3 linked regions of the Homo sapiens genome follow. The protein of the gene in region 1 purifies or fractionates together with the protein of each later gene. This does not show direct contact. Each region holds a gene or a part of one and is shown on either strand. Other genes may lie near its edges.

Region 1 (3,648 bases):
GCTCAAGGTTGCCGGGGTGGCACCCTTGACATTTCCTGTACCTTTGCTTCAAAGCCCACAAATGCTGTGGCACCAACTCAAGAGGAGCTGAATGCCACCCCAGGAAATAATGCCACCTCTCTGGGCATAAATGCACCAGGAATAGGGCTGGGATGCAACAGCAAAGGGTGGGATTAGTAATTAAGCCACATGCTACTTAGATTTCCAAGCCACATTTTGGACCCACAGGATTCAAGATATTAAGGAAATTGATACTTGCCCACCTCCCCAGCATAAGACTTCATTCCCTCCTAACATCACACAGAAATGGGTCCTGTCTACTGTTAACCCAGCTTGGAGAGAAGAATAAGAAGAGGACCCAGTGATGGCGTAGAGAAAATATAGAGCCACTTTACTATTAAAAATGTATTTTCCAAAAGCAAGGTAGTTGCTGTCCCAAAAAGCCGAAAGCCTCTAGTCCCTGCGGAACGGGCTGGATGGGGCTTCAGTCTGACACAGCCAGGCGGGGCAGCCCTCGGCGGGCTCGGATTCTCTGGGAGATTTGATAGAGCTCCATCGTTGCCCTCGCATCTTCCACCGAGCTGTGTCCAAGCAGGCTGTTCTGCAGACACAAGTATAGAGTGGGGACTTGGGATGAGGCTGAATTCAGAGGCCCCGTGACAGGGTCTTCCCTGGTCACATCCCGATTTCCAGAGTCCCCAGGTGGGTCAGTGGGTGAGAGTCTCTTGAGGTCTCTGACACTCTGGACTTAGGAGACTCAGCAGGTGGCTGGAGCTGGCCTGCCTTCAGCCCTGGGGCCAGTGGCACGAAAGCCAGCCTCCTGGGAACCAGGCTGTGCCTTCAAGTCACCTGCAGTCCCGCAAGGGAGGCAGAGGCTGCAGACTTGCTGTCAGACACACGCAGTGGCTGCAGCAGCTCTAACAAGAAGCTTCAGGACACTGAGGAGGGAGTGAGGAACTCCAGCTAGGGACACAGGGAAGGGCTGCTCAGAGAGAACACAAGGGCGTCAATAAATGGAAAGGAAAGGCCGCAAGCATTTCGGAGGCAGGGAGAGCATGTGCAGCTAAAATAAGAGGCCTGCGAGGGTGGGGGCAGGGGGTGTGTGAAAGGTGGTGTGGGGACGGATGGTGGGCCTGGATTTATCACTGAAGGCCTTGAATGCCGAAGTCGGGAGCCTAGACTTTATGGGGTAGTGCTATGGGAGTCGGGGGCCCTCGGTCCATTCAAGGGAGAAGCGATGACCATTTACCATGTCTTCCGTGCACTAGGCTGAAGTTAAACCTCTGAGCTGGATATGATTATTCCCCCATTTTACTGATGATAAAACTGAGGCTCACACACAAGCCAGCCAGTTGTGCAGCTGAGATGTGGATCTTGCAGAGGCGAGTACACAGGGCAAATCCTCAGTGCAGTCACCTTTCATCTCCCTTCGCATGCCCCGCTCAGCCCTGGTGTCCTGGCCGGTACCCAGCATGGGAGCCAGCGGGCTGTTGGACCTGGCTGCGTTTTCTTGGTGTCCCTCTGTCGAGAGAGGACTTCCTGTTCTCACAGGGGCTCCTTTTCCAGGCACTCCAGACAGGGTGTTGGGGACACCTGGTTAGACGGCCCAGCTCAAAAAGGCTTTTTCTTGTTGCCGTTATTACGCTGTATTGTTTTATTTTTTAATGTTTAGTTTTATTTTTTGGCTTGGACACCCTATCATTAATCAGCAAGCAGGTAGCATGGTGGCGTCGTCTGCGCTGTGCCTCTGCATACCTGCCCCTGTCACCATCCTTGACAGATGAGGAAACTGAGGCACAGGGAGGTTATGTGTTCTACCACTCTGCTCTATGGAGAAGGAAGCCAAGAACAGAAGCAGAATGCAGCACCAGCACCCTTTATTACCAAGTGGGGAGGTAAAGAGCCCCGGATTTGGAATCAGACAAACCCCAGGCTGCAATTCCCAGCTCCCCTGCTTATGAGCTCTGTGACCGTGGGCAAGTCACTTTTCCTCTCTGGGCCTCTGTTTCCTCTTCTGTGAAATGGGCCTGATTATACCTGCCTTAAAGGATGGAATGAGAGAACTGTGCCCAGCACCCTCCACAGGGCTTCATAAATGGCAGGGTCTTTCCTTTCCTGTGCAGCCCAGTCTACCATGCGCGCAGCTTGGCAGGGAGCCACAGGCCTGCTATTTCACTCCCTCGAGGGGCAGTAACACCACTGCCCAACTGTGACAGCTCTACCATGTTAGCTCCTTGTGTCCTGTGGGTCAGTTCTGGTCACAGTGATCAGTAGCACCACTGTCCATGTGAGCGGGGGCGGGCGGGAGGGCTGGTTTCTAGGGGCATCAGTGCAGGCAGGAGCTGCCTGGTGGGGTACTGAGCTTCTGGAACAACCAGGCTTAATGAGCCCAGGGACAGAGCCTGGGAGAAGGCCCTGGGTCAGGCTTAAGGCCCCAGACTGAGAGCCACAGAGCGGCAAGGGCTCCAGGAAAAGCCCAGCCTGGCCCTTATGTGCCTTATGTGCCTTGAGGCTAACAGGCCCAGACTCAGCCCTGTTCCCTACTCCGGACATGATTCCTACAGCTCTTGCCAGCAGGCTAGGGGCGGGCTCCGTGCTCCCCAGCCCCTCCCCGAGCCTCAGGCTTTGACTCACCTGGCCCCACTCTGTATGCCTTCTTCTGCCCTCCTTGACTAAGACCCTCCAGGCTCTGTTCAGATCTGGTCTCCTGCCCTGCCAGCCCCATCCTTCATCCTGCTCCCAGGGCACTGCCCTTCCCTCCGTCACACACTCCTTACCATGTGTGCTGATGATCTGGTTAAGGGCCACCTCCCAACCAACCAAGAGCTCAGGGACAGAGACGGGTCTTGCTCACCCTGCGTCTCTAGGATCTGGCCTAGAGCAGGCAGCAGGTGTTTAATAAAGAGCTGTTGACCTGAAGGGTCCCTGTGTACAGCCCTGGCTCTTAGTGTCTGGCGCCTCTCCCTCTGCCCTTCCCACAGGGTGAACTCCCAACCCCCCATATCCGTATGCCTTTTCCTGCCTGCTTTGCCCACCAGCCAGAAGTGCTGCGGAATCAGTGCCCAGGAGCAGCAGCAGCTGGTGGCTGATGGGAACTGGTGTACAAATATCCCAGTTCCCCGGCCCCTGCTGTGAGACATATCTGAGGTGAGGTGTGTGCTTTACATCATTGCCCAGAGTTCTATGGTGGGAGCAAGCTTCACTTCCCACAGGGTAACTGGCTTGATTTCAACAACAAAAGCAAACCTTTGTTGGGTGTTTTCCCTTCCCTGCCCTCATCCTCACTCTACCAGCCAGGGACCAGGCACAGCAGGACCTACCATCAATGCCTCAGGCAAGCTGCCCTGAGGTGTGCGAGGGCATGAGGGAGGAGGAGGAAAGGGAGGGGACAGGGGAGGAGGAAGGGGAAGAAGGGGAGAAGAGCGAGGAGGTGGGGGAGGGGGAGGGGGAGGAGGAAGGGGAGGAGGGCAAAGGGGGAGGGGAAGGGGGAGGAGGGGAAGGAGGAGGGGAAGGAGGAGGGGAAGGAGGAGGGGGAGGAGGAGGGGGAGGAGGAGGGGGAGGAGGGAGGAGAAGGAGGAGGAGAAGGAGGAGGGGGAGGAGGAGGGGGAGGAGGAGGGGGAGGAGGGGGAGGAAATGGAGATGGGTGAG
Region 2 (3,648 bases), on another chromosome or scaffold:
CAGGCAGGTGGCTGAGTCTCTTTCCTTTTTCCTAACTTCAGTATCATAGGGTGGGGTTTTAAGCCCAAATAAGAAAATGCGTCCCTGGCTTTGAAATACAGCCAAGAGTAAATGTCTATTAGAAATTTGTCTTTCGTACTGGAGAGAAAATCAGGTACCTAAGTATACCAACTTCAGATATGCATCTATTCAGGACCCAGAAACCACATGAGGGTTCGGGCACACATGAATTGGAGTTTGGACTGGAATGCCTCAGTACAGGTGAAAAAGCTAGGGAACTTGGTGGCCTGGGGAAAAGGCAGATGCCAGGAAATTCAGGTCTCACCATCTTTTTTCAGGATGACATCTCGGCCTTTGTGTTTCCAGATGATGGTTGGTGGGAGGGAGCTGACCACATCACACACAATCACGGCATCTTCCCCCTCCCGGAACTCCTGTGGGGTTGGCGCATTCTTGAACATGAGCTTCTCTGGAAGATGAACAGAAGAGTGAGGGAAAACAGCTGCTTCTCTCACAAAGAACCCCTTTCACTAGAGCCATGGTACCTGGACTTGAGTCCTGGGCAAGTCTCGATCCTGATGTACAGTTGTATAAGAGGGGCACCCTCAGAGACGTCAGGCAGAGCAGCTGGCCCAAGCATAGGTTACCAATGCTTGGCAACCAATATCTGCTCATTGAGTGCTAAATTTATCACATTTTGTGCAGAAAAGGGTCTACAGAATGAAAGGAATATCTTCACCAAGGGTTCCTTGTCATGCAGGATGATGCCAGTGAAGCACAGGTTATAGGTAGAATGAACTGGTGGAACATCCATTCCACAACGAATAGTAAGAATCATCAGTCCTTTTCTTGTCTCCCACTCGAACTGCTACTCCCAGTCCCACCCCAACTTTCCTACGGCAGACAGAATGCTGATGAAAAGAACAGGAAAAAAGCACATTTAATGGCAATAAATACCGTGCAATCAATACTGTTCCATTAGCTGTCACCCACCATTACTCCAACCACTGGGATGGATGCATGATATAAATAACAAGGTAACGAGATGCCACCTACAGATGGGGTTTCAGAGGCAATAGGAACTGCCTGCTCTGAGTGGCAGAGAGTGTTCAGATAATGATCCCCCACCCCACTGAGCCCTGGGCTCCATTACCAGCAGGGGAGAGGGAAATAAGAAGGGAGAGGAGCCCAAATTGCAGAACAGTCAGCCAACATTTGGGGAAGGGATAGAGAAACCCGTAATAGCCCTCTGGGAACTATGTAATTTGAATTTTGAGAATGAACGCCTGTGGGGGAGTAGCTGTGACCAGTGTGAACCAGGGTTGTGAGTTCTGGGTTGGCCAAGGTCAGAAAAGACTTAGGGAGAGAGAATGGGACTGGTTAGGCCCTCAGCTGGTCCTTCTGTCATCATTTCCACCTTTCCACTACCCACATGTCTCCTTGGCAAGGAGAGGCCAGAGAATGCAGAAGAAGAAGGAGGCTCTTACGAAAGATCTTCACGTTGACGGTGGCCTCTGACTCACTGCCATCCTCGCCTGTAACCACACACTTGTAAATGCCGGCGTCGTCGATGTTGGCGTTATAGATGGTGAGGGTGGAGGAGGAATCATCATTCCACACCACTGAGATCCGCTGCTGGTTTGGGGTGAGCTTTTCTCCATTGGGGGAGAACCAGGAGATGTCTTTATCTTTGGCATCTCCTGCCACTAAAGAGGAAGAGATTATTTTTAAGCTACTGAAGTCGAAAAGACTAATAAGTCCCCTCCAGACTGACAGTGGCTGATCAGTAAGAGTTACTGAACAACAGATCAGTCAAGGCTTGAACATCAGGGAGGGGTGAGTATGGCTGCTGGAATGACATGCAGCCCTTCTTTGGCCTCTGCATTTAACTATTATATACTTAACACCTCTTACAATATTTGGAAAGAACTCAACAACCACTTGTACTAGTTGTTATCATGGTCCTATCCCTAATGATGGAAGAGAAGAGATACTTGTTGAGAACATACTGTGTGCTGGGCACTAAGCTAGGAACACACATGCCTCACACAACGGGTAACCAAGGGAATTAGTGTATTTAGGATTCGGGCGCCAGAGCCTAACTGGTCTGAGTCTACTGATCAGCTTGTTTTTGAAGCCTTGGATAATGGGTCTCCTGAGATGAAGGCGAGAAATACTGGCTAGTATAGGAGTGCAGATTCCAACCACTTTTTATTTCATTTTTTCCAGCCACATTTATTCTAGCATCTGCCTGCACAAACTGGCATGACTGTCATTTCGTCACTCCCTGCTCAGACAAATTCATTTCCTTGCATGCTGCAAAGAAGGTAGCCAGAACCACCCATTCTTCCTTTCCCCAGGCAGCAATGAGGAGGAACAGACTGTGGTGGCTGAGCTGCCCCCGGCACTGAGCTGGAACAGGGCTCTGACACTGAAACTGCCCAGGACACTGAGCTGGAAGGGCGCTCAGATCCGGCGGATGTGGCGGCGCCCTGCCTGTTTGCATGGGCCCCTGCCTCTTCGCGTGGCGCCCTTCTCAGCCTGCACCACCCAGCCCTGCACAGATGCTTAGTATGGAAATGAAGCAGTCTTCCTTTCAGGGCCCATCATGTTTTCAATAAATATCGCTATTTGCAAGATGTGCTGTGGGCTCCACGGCTGCGTCTCCAGATCATTGAAATTGCTGTAATGAAGGCAAAGCTGGAGTGAACACATCCGACGGCCACAAGCCACCTCGTCCACGCAAATCATGACAGCATTTAAAGGCCCCTCCCTGCCAAAAGCTGCTTGCTAAATGTCACCATTTACACCTAGCTCAGCTCTTTCCTGGTTCTTCCATGTTCTGAATCCCAGTCATGTCATATACAGAGAATCTGAGGCTTAATTTGAAACCTTTTCCTCCACAGGACATTTTCTGGCAATTATCTGGGCTGTGGAAATGGGGCATGTTTTCTAAATGTAAAACAAGGTCACCAGGTCTGGCATATCTCAGAGCTCTGGTGGGGACCATGGCACAGAATATCGATATTCACAATAGACCTGGTAAACCCAGGATATATGTCCTCACAACAAAAGCCATACCAGTATTCTATTTACCTACAGGCAAGTTTTAGACTTAGATTTTCAAGCTCTGGGGAATTCTAAGAAATAAGCCTTAAACAGATCCACCGAAGTATTGTTTCTGAGCCAGTGCTGTTCTCCATTGTCATTTACAGAACTCTGAATGTATACAGAATAGGAGATGGGGGATGATTCACTATTCTGGAAGTTGTGCTGATTTTTCTAAGAAAACTCCTAGACTTCCTCTGTAGTCAAGGTGAAGTCTAGATGACAGATTTGCTATGTTGAGGCAGATTTTTGCAAAAGGAAGGAAGAGGCCCTGGCTCTTAAATGGCCATACTATTGACCCTGTAATAGAGCAATGCCAAGAATTCTAGGTGTGGCTTGACCAGCCAGCTCACATGGCCTGAGGGCTCCTGCTCTACCCAGTGAGTTTCTGAAGCAAGTTCTAAAATGCAGCTGAGCACTAGGCACTTGCCTTGGCATAAGAAGAATTTGGACTCTCCAACGCTGATCTCCCCCTGGCTGGGAACAATATCCACCTGCAGAGAAACTGAAAAAACAAAACAAAACAAAACAAAACAAAAA
Region 3 (4,163 bases), on another chromosome or scaffold:
TGAAGTGCAATGGCTCAATCATACTTCACTGCAGCCTTGAACTCCTGGGCTCAAGCAATCCTCTCACCTCAGCCTCCTGAGTAGCTGGGACTACTGGCCTGTACCACCAAGAGTTACATTCCCTGAAATACATGTTTTAATTTTTTTACAAAAATTTTTAGATACAGGGTCTTACTATGTTTCCCAGGCTGGCCTTGAACTCCTGGCCTCAAGCAATCCTCTCATATCAGCCTCCAGAGCCATTGGGATTATAAGCATGAGCCACTGTGCCCAACAAAGCATATGAGTTCAAAGCCCAGCTCTGATTCTTAGAAGCTCTGTGACCTTGGATAAATTATTTACTCTTATCTGTAAAAACAGGACAACCATAATATTTAGTCATAACATTGTTATAAGGATTAAATGAAGTAATTCATTCAACAAATAATTACTGAGGACCTATTATATGCCAAGCGTTGTTAGGCACTGAGAGTACAGTGAATAAATGCATGTACCAGACATGTAATAAACTTGAACTGTTTTTGTCTAAAAGTATGTACACACAAGCTTGAGGTTGTATATAGGATTTAAAGAAGTTGCAAGGTGCAGAAACAGGAATGAATTATTTATCGGGCCTAAGATCATGAAGCTGAAATGTTGATGAACACAGAATAGTATCTAATTACAAGAGAGTATTGTTTGATCGAGGGTTAGAAGCAAATAGACCTGTTGATTGATTCAACGTGTGTGTTGAGCAATTTACGCCGCATATTAGGTTAATTTTCTAAGGGCTAGAACTGGCTGTCAGGCATTTTAACATCTCTTCCATAACAACACCTATGAAAACTCAGAACAGCAATGAAAGCAAGAATAAAAAATGGAAGAGTGTAACTCACGTGGAATAGTTATTAATATTGATGATAAAATATTTTTAAAGATAAAGTTATTCATTATTTTCTGAGAGGATTAAAAACTGCATTCCACCTACTGAATACTTTTGCCCCAAAGTTACATTCCCTGAAATACATGTTTTAATCAGTTTAAAACTATGTAATGGTGACTCAGTACTCTGCTTGTTAAACCAGGATGCTACTCCTAGGATAACTGAAGCACAGCATGGGGTAGAGAAGTCAGAATAATAAAATGTATCTTCCTGAAGCATCTGTTTTCCCTCGGCTTTTCATATTGAAACCCACAAAAATCTATCATAGAACAGAATGCAAAACTCTACTTAATTTCATAACATAAAACACGAAACATCGAAACATCGGAGAAACTCCTTGCTCTGTCCTCTTGTTGCAGGTATGGAAGCTCTGGGTTCTTTAGGAGAAAAGTTAGTGAGCACTGTGCATTAGAAATGAATTTTTCCATCTTTTCACATTGTTGTCAGTGAGAAGGGGTTTACTTTTATAATGCTTTTAATTTTTTGTTTACTTCCTGACTTGTCATTGCTTTCCGTTATCTATGGAAACTAGAAATAAATTCTCATACACCACAAAAATAACAGCAACACAACATATTTCTGACTAGGACACAGCGGCTGAGCTTTGAAAAGCATTCCTCACCGTCTGGTGCGCTCTACCAACAACATCAGAGGAAGACATTTCTGTTACTGCAATAACACAAGGTGCTAAGAGAAAATCTGTGAAAAGGAATTCACTCCAGTACAAAATCCCCGCTAAAGTTCGCCTTGCAGAAGACTGTAAACTAGCTTGACGGAGTTTGCTTAACCTCCATAGCATTGTCCAAAATTTTAGCCATTCAAAATCTAAGAAAAGTGAGTCGGCTGTAAAACCCTGTCATTCTCTAATTCATGTAACTGCGTTTATACTTTTCACAGTACTTATCACTGTCAGAAACGATCTTAGCCAATTGTTTCACGTGTTTCTTTTCTGTCTCTTCTATCTTCAATCTCTACAAACAGGGTCACTTGTATCTCCAGCATCTAGCCAAGCACTGGGGTATTATATAGCAGATGCTCAAAATGTCCTTGTTGAGTTTCTTCAGCAAGAGTCAGTGATGACCACTTTTGATCACACATACTTCTCAACTGATACTTAAGCCGAAGATAGGGGAAAGTGTGTCTGACCTATTCAGAGTGCAGGGACCCATTTGATGGAGTGAATGCTCCTCTGGATTCTCCGCATCTTTTGCCATCTTTGATGCTGAAACGCTAATGGGAGGGTAAATGGGGAAAAGTCTTTTTTGTTGGTGTTTTAGTAGAGACGGGGGAGCGGAAGATCTCGCTTTGTTACCCAGGTTTTTCTCGAACTTCTGGTCTCAAGAGATCGTCCCGCCTCAGCCTCCCAAAGTGCTGAGATTGCAGTCGTCAGCCACCGCCCCCAGCCTTGGTAGAAGGCCTTGATAGGACATTTCTCCTGTGTTTAAGGCAATGCCGAGGCTAACCGCCTTAGGGCCTCAACACCAACTCCCCGAGATCCCATCAGCGGACAGGGTGAATCCAGCGCCCGGCCTCGGGCCCCGCGCGTCTCGCAGCGAGCGCCGCGGAGCGCACCAGGGCCGCCGCACCCGCGGTCACAGCAGCGCCGCTCCAGATTTGGAAGGAAATCGCGCTTTGTCCCGGGTTCTGCTCGCATCCTCCGGGACAAGGCCCGGCTCCTGCCAGGCGGGGTGGCCACGGGACACACCCTTTGGACCTCCTGGGGAGTTAGCCCACCCGAGTCCCCAGCCCGGGCGCGGGCGGCGCCGGTACCCTGCTCACCGCTGGGGAACCTGCTGCTGTCGCCGGCCTTGTTGAGGGCGCTGCTGGAGCAGCCCATTGCGGGGAGCGCAGACACCTGTCTCAGCCCTGCGCGGGTGTCGGCCCGGAACCGGGAACCGAAGGCAACTGCACCCGTAGCCGCGGAAGTTTCTCCAGCTCTGCAGCCCGGCTCCCTTGGGCGTAGAGCGCAAGCGCGCAGCGGGGCTAATGGTAGGGGGTGCGCACCTGGAGGAGGAAGGGAGCTGGCAGGAGGTGGAAGGAGCCTGGGAGCGCAAAGCGGAAGAGAGCGGGAGGGCCAGGACGCAGAGGAGGGCAGGGAGGAGTAGAGCCCAGGAGACAGGAGGGGAGACGGTGGAGGGTATGGCACAGTAAGAGAGGAAAAGCCCCTAAAGCAGGGATAGGGAGGATGTCAGGGGGCGAGGGCGAAGCGCTGGGAGGTATCATCTGACTCATCACTAAATAGCCAGGGAGGCGAGGCGGCCTTGGGACTAGGGGCTATTGATTGGTAGACTAGATGTGCGATGACAGTCTTATTTTCTTACATAACTACAATTACCACAAGGAAGTTTAACTTTGATACAGTACGATTTAATCCACCCTCCATGTTCCCTTTTTGCCAATTGTCCAATCCAGGACTGCACGTTGCATTTAGTTGTGTCTCTCTTTAGTTTGCTTTAATCTGAAGTAGTTCCTCCAGTCTTGCTTTGTCGTTATGACTTTGACATTTATTAAGAGAATAGATTTTTTTTTTTTTTTGAAACCGAGTCTCTCTCTGTTGCCCAGGCTGGAGTGTAGTGGCGCAATCTCGGCTCACTGCAACCTCTGCCTCCCGGGTTCAAGCGATTCTCCAGCCTCAGCCTCCAGAGCAGCTGGGATTACAGGCGCCTGCCACCGTGCCCAGCTAATTTTTGTAATTTTAGTAGAGACGGGGTTTCACCATATTGGTCAGGCTGGTTTCGAACTCCTGACCTCAGGTGATCCACCCGCTTCGGCCTCTCAAAGTGCTGGGATTACAGGCATGAGCCACTGCGCTCGGCCTTTTTTTTTTTTTTTTTTTTTCCGGAGATGGAGTCTCACTGTGTCACCAAGACTGGAGTGTAGTGGCGAGATCTCAGCTCACTGCAACCTCCACCTCCCTGGTTCAAGAAACTCTCCCTGCTTCAGCCTCCTGAGTAGCTGGAATTACAGGCATGCGCCACCACGTCTGGCTATTTTTTGTATTTTTTAGTAGAGACGGCGTTTCACCATGTTGGCCAGGCTGGTCTTGAACTCCTGATCGCAGGTGATCCGCCCGCGTGGGACTCCCAAAGTGCTGGGATTACACATGTCAGCCACCGCACCCGGTGAGAACAGGCTTTTTTTTTTTTTAATTTGAGACACGGTTTCATTCTTGTTGCCCAGGCTGGAGTGCAATGGCACAATCTCAGCTCACCACAACTTTCGCCTCCTGGGTTCAAGCAAT

What was found.
Region 2: the proteins of ISG20 (region 1) and NCAM1 purify together in Homo sapiens (affinity purification with mass spectrometry; one large-scale study listed by BioGRID and IntAct). This does not show direct contact.
Region 3: the proteins of ISG20 (region 1) and ERICH5 purify together in Homo sapiens (affinity purification with mass spectrometry; one large-scale study listed by BioGRID and IntAct). This does not show direct contact.

The regions. Positions count from the first base shown.
Region 1 is NC_000015.10:88,652,368-88,656,015, reverse strand, and holds part of ISG20 (interferon-stimulated gene 20 kDa protein), read right to left. Parts: intron 602-3,648; coding exon 485-601; 3' UTR 1-484.
Region 2 is NC_000011.10:113,202,344-113,205,991, reverse strand, and holds part of NCAM1 (neural cell adhesion molecule 1 isoform 2 precursor), read right to left. Parts: intron 3,614-3,648; coding exon 3,539-3,613; intron 1,707-3,538; coding exon 1,488-1,706; intron 470-1,487; coding exon 326-469; intron 1-325.
Region 3 is NC_000008.11:98,063,266-98,067,428, reverse strand, and holds the start of ERICH5 (glutamate-rich protein 5), read right to left. Parts: upstream 2,862-4,163; 5' UTR 2,760-2,861; coding exon 2,702-2,759; intron 1-2,701.